2 linked regions of the Homo sapiens genome follow. The protein of the gene in region 1 binds, or shares a complex with, the protein of each later gene. Each region holds a gene or a part of one and is shown on either strand. Other genes may lie near its edges.

Evidence for each region. Proteins that work in one complex are often made in the same cells at the same time.
Region 2: the proteins of SF3B3 (region 1) and DDX42 are in contact, whole or in part, in a cryo-EM structure (PDB 7EVN), measured with the Homo sapiens proteins. Residues at the interface, in NP_036558.3 of Homo sapiens: Glu159, Ala160, His161, Tyr211, His219, Val220, Val221, Arg222, Lys223; in NP_031398.2 of Homo sapiens: Lys145, Gly146, Ile147, Arg148, Asp149, Asp150.

The regions. Positions count from the first base shown.
Region 1 is NC_000016.10:70,521,644-70,525,390, forward strand, and holds the start of SF3B3 (splicing factor 3B subunit 3), read left to right. Parts: upstream 1-2,172; 5' UTR 2,173-2,285; intron 2,286-3,747. Other genes in the region: COG4 (conserved oligomeric Golgi complex subunit 4), read right to left, coding at 1,730-1,900. UniProt on the Homo sapiens protein: Component of the 17S U2 SnRNP complex of the spliceosome, a large ribonucleoprotein complex that removes introns from transcribed pre-mRNAs.
Region 2 is NC_000017.11:63,771,893-63,775,639, forward strand, and holds the start of DDX42 (ATP-dependent RNA helicase DDX42), read left to right. Parts: upstream 1-2,277; 5' UTR 2,278-2,484; intron 2,485-3,215; exon of another isoform or gene 3,216-3,286; intron 3,287-3,747. UniProt on the Homo sapiens protein: ATP-dependent RNA helicase that binds to partially double-stranded RNAs (dsRNAs) in order to unwind RNA secondary structures. Unwinding is promoted in the presence of single-strand binding proteins.

The DNA.
Region 1 (3,747 bases):
ACATATTAAATGACTGAATGAATGCGAGCTTAGGAATGTTAAGTCAAGATACTAAATTTTTTTTTTTTTTTTTTTTGAGACAGAGTCTCACTCTGTCGCCGAGGCTGGAGTGCAGTGGTGCGATCTCGGCTCACTGCAAGCTCCTTCTCCCTGGTTCACGCCATTCTCCTGCCTCAGCCTCCCGAGTAGCTGGGACTACAGGCGCCCGCCACCACGCCCGGCTAATTTTTTGTATTTTTAGTAGAGACGGGGTTTCACTGTGTTAGCCAGGATGGTCTCGATTTCCTGACCTCGTGATCCATCTGCCTCAGCCTCCCAAAGTGCTGGGGTTACAGGAGTGAGCCACCGCGCCAGGCTTTTTTTTTTTTTAAGAGACACAATTTTGCTCTTGTTGCCCAGGCTAGAGTGTAATGGCGCTATCTTGGTTCACTGCAACCTCCGCCTCCCAGGTTCAAGCAATTCTCCTGCCTCAGCCTCCCGAGTAGCTGGGATTACAGGCATGCGTCACCACACCCGGCTAGTTTTGTATTTTTAGTAGTGATGGTTTTCACCATTTTGGTCATGCTGGTCTCGAACTCCTGACTCAGGTGATCCTCCCGTCTTGGCCTCCCAAAGTGCTGGGATGGCAGGCGTGAGCCACCGCGCCCCGCAAGATACTAAATTTTAAAACACATCTTGCTGAGGCCAGACAAAAAAAGCCCCACACACTAAACTAGCCAGGCACGGTGGTGTGCGCCTCTGGTTTCATCCATTCTGATTGCAGCACAACAGCACTCCAGCCTGCGCAACAGAGAGCGGCCCTGTTTCTAAAAATAACAAAACAAAACAAAAAACACCACACACATCTTGCTGAAAAACGTATCAGAAACTGCTAGAGTTAGTGCAAGTTTATACTTGAAAATACTCAAAGATATCAACGATCACCTCTCCCTCAGGCTGAAACTGCCTTTTGTGCTCAACTTTGCTAGAAGTTTGGTCTGGGAAACAGCTGACAAGCTTAGAGCTTAGATCTCTTTTGACTAGCAAGGAACCCAACTGACATTCGAAAGTGAATTGACAGCATCGAGTTGCCACTGAAAATTAAAGGAGGCAGGAAATAGAACGTTATGAACTGAAAGGAATTGGAGAATAGTCCACACCCCTCATTTGATAAAATATCAAGGGTACCAGAGATGAAGTGACTTGTCCAAGATTAGAGAATTGTGTCTGAGTCTTAAAAGCTAAACCTCTACAAAGATGTGCATTTGACCAAAACGCTAAAATCACACCCCCAAATCACTCCCCACAAGAGGAAGTCTTAAAACGCTTCAAGAAGTTAATCTGCAAAGGCTTCCCTCTTAAATAACAGGATGAGAGCGTTTCATAATTTGTAAATTAAGCCAATGCAAAAGGGCGCTTATTATTTTGAGAACCAAGCAATTTGGCAAATACTCTCAGACTAACTTTACTCCCGTGGAGAAACTGGTGATCATGGATCAGGGAAATCAACGGGGGTCTAGGGAGGAGAGGCTGCAGATCGCCCAGGTATCAGGGAAGACAAGCTCGGCGCGTCCGACAGCGTGAAAAGAGTTGACAGGACTACTCATATACCCGACTAGCTTCCGCTTCTTTGTTTTCCCGCTTTTTTGTATCCCCCAGCAAGGAGAGTTTCCCACAGCCCGGATTTCCCGACTGAAGGCTCCCACTCTCCCTAGATCCTCCATGAAAAAGAAGAGGCTCGACCCCGCACCTCCTCGCCGCAGAGCCGTTCGTATACAGCCTCCAGCTCCTGCAGCTCTGTCAGGGAGCGAATGAGCTCAGCGGAGATTTCGGAGCAGCGGCCACCTCCCACCCCCTCAGACGGCTGCTGCACCCCTGACAGCTTCGGAGGCGAATCAAGGTCCGCCATCTTGGTCCCCATTCGGCACTTCCGGTCCCGCGAGGCCCCCTCTTCGTTGGCGCCTATTTGGGGCTGCCCACAGAAGTGCCCAATGAACTCTAATGGTTTTTTTTTTTTAAAGTCTACTTCTAAAAACGTATTAATTTTCTATTCTCCTGGAAAAAGCAAAGCAATAAAGCATGTTTAAATAATTTGTAATGCCGTGTGGAAGCAAGACGGAAGCATTTTTTAAAAATTATATATATTCTTCAGGCGCGGATTGGGTGCCTTTTTCCGCCGCGCGCCACCAGAATGTCCCTGTCTTGAGGTCTAATGGCGGACGCCAGTATGTTGGAGTTGGTGGTGGCTTAAGTTTTGAAGGGAGGTAGCATCCGTTGGATATCCACACCATCCTTCTCGCTGCAGGGTAAAAAAACAGCCTGGAGACTTCCCCGGGCCCGGGGAGGCGGAGACCGGCCATATGGAAGGGGGACCCGAGACTTTGGCGGGGGTCACGGGCAGTCTAGGCCCGAGAGGCTGGGGACCAGGAGGAGGTACCGAGGGATGGTTGAGGCGCCAAAACGGCTTCCTGCAGTTATCTCTCGCTTCCATCCACAGTGTGGGAACATATTCTATCTCAAAATAGGGCTCGTGGAGATTGCTTTTAACTTCTGGGGACTCTGAGACGGGGGAGGTGTGACAAGCAGCGGGAGGCATGGATGTCTCCCTCTGGGTAGAGTAAATGGTACACCGAGGGGAAGATAGAAAGATGGAGCGTGTTAAAAGCGTAAATAACGGAAACAGTCTTTAGAGCCAAGACTCCGGTTTGAATTTGTATTTTGGTAGTTGGGCAACTTGTCTCCTCCTCTGAACCTCTATTTTCTCGTTTGCGTAATGGAGGACAGAGTTTAAATGCGATGATGTTTCCTTGGAGGATGGAGAAGATGCAGTGAGCAATCATACAAGCTTTTTGTAATAATGGTAAACAGACGTGGGGGAAGTTTTTTTTGTTTTGTTTTGTTTTGTTTTTGTGACGGAGTCACAGTCTGTCGCCCAGACTGGAGAGCAGTGGCGCGATCTCGGCTCACTGCCATCTCTGCCTCCCGGGTTCCAGCGATTCTCTTACCTCAGCCTCCCGAGTAGACTAGCTGGGATTACGGGCGCGTGCCACCACGCCCGGCTAATTTTTCTTTTTTTGAGACGGTGTCTCGCTTTGTCGCCCAGGCTGGAGTGCAGTGGCGCGATCTCTGCTCACTGCAAGCTCCGCTTTCCGGGTTCACGCCATTCTCCTGCCTCAGCCTCACGAGTAGCTGGAACTACAGGCGCCCGCCACCGCGCCCAGCTAATTTTTTGTATTTTTAGTAGAGACGGGGTTTCACTGTGTTAGCCAGGATGGTCTCGATCTCCTGACCTTGATCCACCCGCCTTGGCCTCCCAAAGTGTTGGGATTACAGGTGTGAGACACCGCGCCCGGCCCAGACGTGGGGGAAGTTTTAAAGCTTACCAAATTTATCTGGTATGTATTTTTTGTTTGTTTGTTTTGTTTTTGAGACGAAGTCTCGCTGTCGCCCAGGCTGGAGCGCAGCGGCTTGATCTCGGCTTACTGCAGCCTCCTCCTCCTTGGTTCTAGCTATTCTCACGCCTCAGCTTCCCGAGTAGCTGAGATTAAAGGCGTGTGCCACCGCGCCCGGCTAGTTTTTGCATTTTTAGTAGAGGGGTTTTCACTGTGTTGGCCAGGCTGGTCTCAATTCCTGACCTCAAGTGACCCATTTGCCTCGGCCTCCCAAAGTGCTGGGATTACAGGCGTGAGCCACCACTGCGCCTGGCCTCGTATATAGTTTTTCTAGTACTGGACTGATCCTCCGAAATGCACCTTCCTCCACGATCCA
Region 2 (3,747 bases), on another chromosome or scaffold:
CCAAAATAGTGAAACCCCACCTCTACTAAAAATACAAAAATTAGCCGGGCGTGGTGGCAGGCACCTGTAATCCCAGCTACTCGGGACGCTGAGGCAGGAGAATCGCTTGAACCCGAGAGATGGAGGTTGTAGTGAGCCAAGATTGCGCCACTGCACTCCAGCCTGGGCAACAGGGTGAGACTCTGTCTCAAAAAAATAGATAAATAATAAAATAAAATGTCAGCTCTACCATTTACCAGCAATATGACCTTAGCCTAATTACTTAAAATTCCCTGTTCTCCACATACAAAAAAGGGATACCATTTGCTACTTGCCTCTTAGGGCTGCAGTGGGTATTACGGGAGATATGTACCAAGGGTTTTTTTTTTTTTTTTTTTTTGAGACGGAGTCTGACTCTGTCACCCAGGCTGGAGTGCAGTGGCACGATCTCGGCTCACTGCAAGCTCCGCCTCCCGGGTTCACGCCATTCTTCTGCCTCAGCCTCCCAAGTAGCTGGGACTACAGGCGCTCGCCACCACGCAGGGCTAATTTTTTGTATTTTTAGTAGAGACGGGGTTTCACTGTGTTAGCCAGGATGGTCTCGATCTCCTGACCTCGTGATCCACCCGTCTCGGCCTCCCAAAGTGCTGGGATTACAGACGTGGGCCACCGCGCCCAGCCTCCTTTTCAAATCCTACTCTTAAAACTTTTTTTTCATATAGAAGCAACTAAAAGTTAACACCGGAACAGTCAACTCGATTAACAGCCTGCCAAAAGATCCGATCATTTCAAATTGAATTTCCAATTAGAATATTCACACCATAGAAACACTTCTGAGATAACTCAGCACTATAATGGAGATCCTTCAAGGTTATTTAGGTTACAATCATCCAAGCCATTTTTACCTTGGTTTTCCCTCTTAGAAGTCTCCGCTGCACCTGTCAGTTCTCAAATGCACAAGTCCTTGCCAGACCACCCAGCCTCTATGACTCCTGAAGCAAGCAACACAGGACCAAGGAAAATTCACACAAGCGCTAACAAGTCTGGTTTGATTATTTTCTGCAAGCTCATCCAATAGTTCCTCAGCGACTGAGTCTAGACTTGAGGAAAGAGGACTGAGTGAGGCCATCATTCCTTGTTGTCATTTTAGATTAGGTCTTCCTGACAACGGCCAAAACGAGTATTCTGGAAATCATGCAGACTTTCCTCTGTCTCTTTATATGTGTTGGATACAAACACGTTTCATTTTAGAAACCTCCAGAAGAGACTGGCCACAGAGGTTTTTGCTTCTATTAAACCCCTTTGCCTAGTTTCTCCCCACCCAAGAGAATCAATACATCCTAATGTCATCCTCCGGCACACACTGTACATTTCCTCTAACTCTGCCCTTTTGGCTATCATTTGCTCACAGCTCCGTGGGAAAGTTCCCCCAAACCATTACAATTATCTCAACCGGACCGGGCTACAGGCCAAGCAACTCGGAGTCACCGCTCGGCCTGGCCCGGCCACGCCGACGAGCGCGTCCTGGCCCGCTCCTTACCTGTGGCCGAAGCCGAAACCCGGCCCAGCGCCCTGCGTCCGACACCCCTGCCCGGCCTGCCTCTCGGCCTGGCCGCCGCCTCCGCGATCGCAGCGGTTTTACTGCCCCGGATGCCTCTAGGACGCAGCCAGAACCGTAGCTCAGTCACGCCGCGCCTCTCTTCACGTAGCCTCCGCCGTCCGTTACGTAGAATGCGAGCGGCTCGTCAGCGCCTGCGCGCAGCCTGCGGGGCGGGACGCAACCCCGGGGAAAGCGCGAGACCTCCCTCTCTCCCGCCCGGCTGAGGCGAGGTGGGGCTTTTGGGAAAATTACATAATCCCCGCCCCTGGGCCGGAACTGCCCTCGCCTATCCCAATCCTCCTACCTAGGATTCCGTCAAGTTGACGTCACACGGAACCGGTGCTCCGGAAGCTAAAGGTGGCCATGCTGTGTGGGACCACGTGGCCAGAGGCAAGAGTGTCGCTCTAGTAGTATATGCAACAGTTTAAACTATAGGCATGTTCATGTAAATATGGTTTCTGTCCAACCCGTTTTCTCTTGGGATTTTTGGCTAGCCCCTTGACGCCACTTTTTCTTCATTCGCAGACCCACTTTCTAGATGGGTCATGAACACTGTCCACCCAACTGCAGTTTCCCGTCAGAGTATCTGAGGAGCCTGTGAGGCGTTCTGGAGCTTTAAGGTCAGGCGCCTTCCGGGAGCCGTAGCCCCGGCCCCGCCCTTCTGCCCGCGCGTTCCTCACTGCGCATGTCGCGTTTTTGTTCCCCTCCCCCCTTCAGCAACGGGCCGTGAGGCGGTGGCGGTGGTGGCGGTGGCGGCGGCGGTGGTGGTGGTGGCGGCGGCGGCGGCGAAGGGGGCGGAGAGGAAGGAGCGCGGCGGGACCGGGCCGGGACAGCGCGTACTTTGGGCTCCGGGATTCGCTCCGCGCCCGCGGTTGTAGCAGCTGCCGCTGCAGCCATAGCAGCAGGTTTGTGCGTGGGGTTTCTGGACGCAAGGCCGCCAGTCCTTGGGGGCACTGGAGGCAACTGCTGGGCCTAGCGAGGGCGGAGGAACCGCGGCCTCGCTTAACAAAGAGTCGGCAGAGCCTCGGGGCACCGGCGGCCGGGGTGCCGGGAAGGGGTGGGAGTGGGGGCTGAGGCCTCTAGGGTTCCTTCCTAGCCGCGTCGCCCTCCCACAGCTCCCGCTTCCCTCACAAGTCTTACCGAGGCCCAGTTGGCGGCTTTCCGGAGGCGGCGCCCCCTCGCCTAGGAAAAGGATTTGCAGGGTGCCCGGCTCCAGGGCAGGAATAGCGCGGGGAGAATTCTGACCCAAGGAGGCAGCGCTTGGGAGATGCAGGCCTCCGAATTTGGGGTCCTGAGAGGCAAAAGCTGCCAAATGAGAGGAGTGAAAAGATATAGGCGATGATCTTTGTGCAGCGTTGAGTAGGTCGATTATTAGCATCACTGTAGTCACACAAACTTTTTTGCGGCCTACTTGAGAGCGTATCTGATGTGAATAAATAATTTACATGGAATTGCAAACATATGCATCAAAAACAGGAGAAGCTGTCGAGAGTTTTGGGGAATTACATTCTCATCACTGAGAATTTCCCTCTTGCCCCCACTCCTATAGGCAGTTATCCAATTTCTTGTGGCTTCCCTGTGTTTTCTTTTTGTCAATGATGTTTCTATGTCTGTCCTCTCTCGTATACACACCCAGGACTTCCTCAAGCGCAGGGACTATGTCTTAAGGCGCTTTGCAGAGCCAAGCTCATTTCTGGCACATAAGAGGTGAGCAATGAGTGTTTCGTACAAAAATTAATGTTTATATTTTGACAGCTGGGAAAAGAAAATATATCTTCCTGTACCTGGAAGAAGCATTGTGTAGCCTAATGTGCAATTCGTTCATTCAAGGGGTATTTTTATTGGTGCCTATTCTCTAGCGCCGTTCTAGGTGATAGGGATAGGTGTTAGACCCCTGCCTTTGGGGAACTTAACTTTCTAGTAGCGGGAGGAGAGGCAAACAGATACATATATTATACTGAATGTTAGAAGATGATCAGTATCTTAGGGAAAAGAAAGCTGGAAAGGGGGTTGGGGAGGTGGTGGTGTTGGAATTTGCAATAAAGTGGTCAGGGAAGTCCATACAGACAAGCTGATATTTAAGCGGACTAGAAGGTGGAGTGAGAGCCTACGTTTATCTGGGGAAAGGAACGTTCCAAGCTAGAGAATAACAAACATAAAAGCCTTGA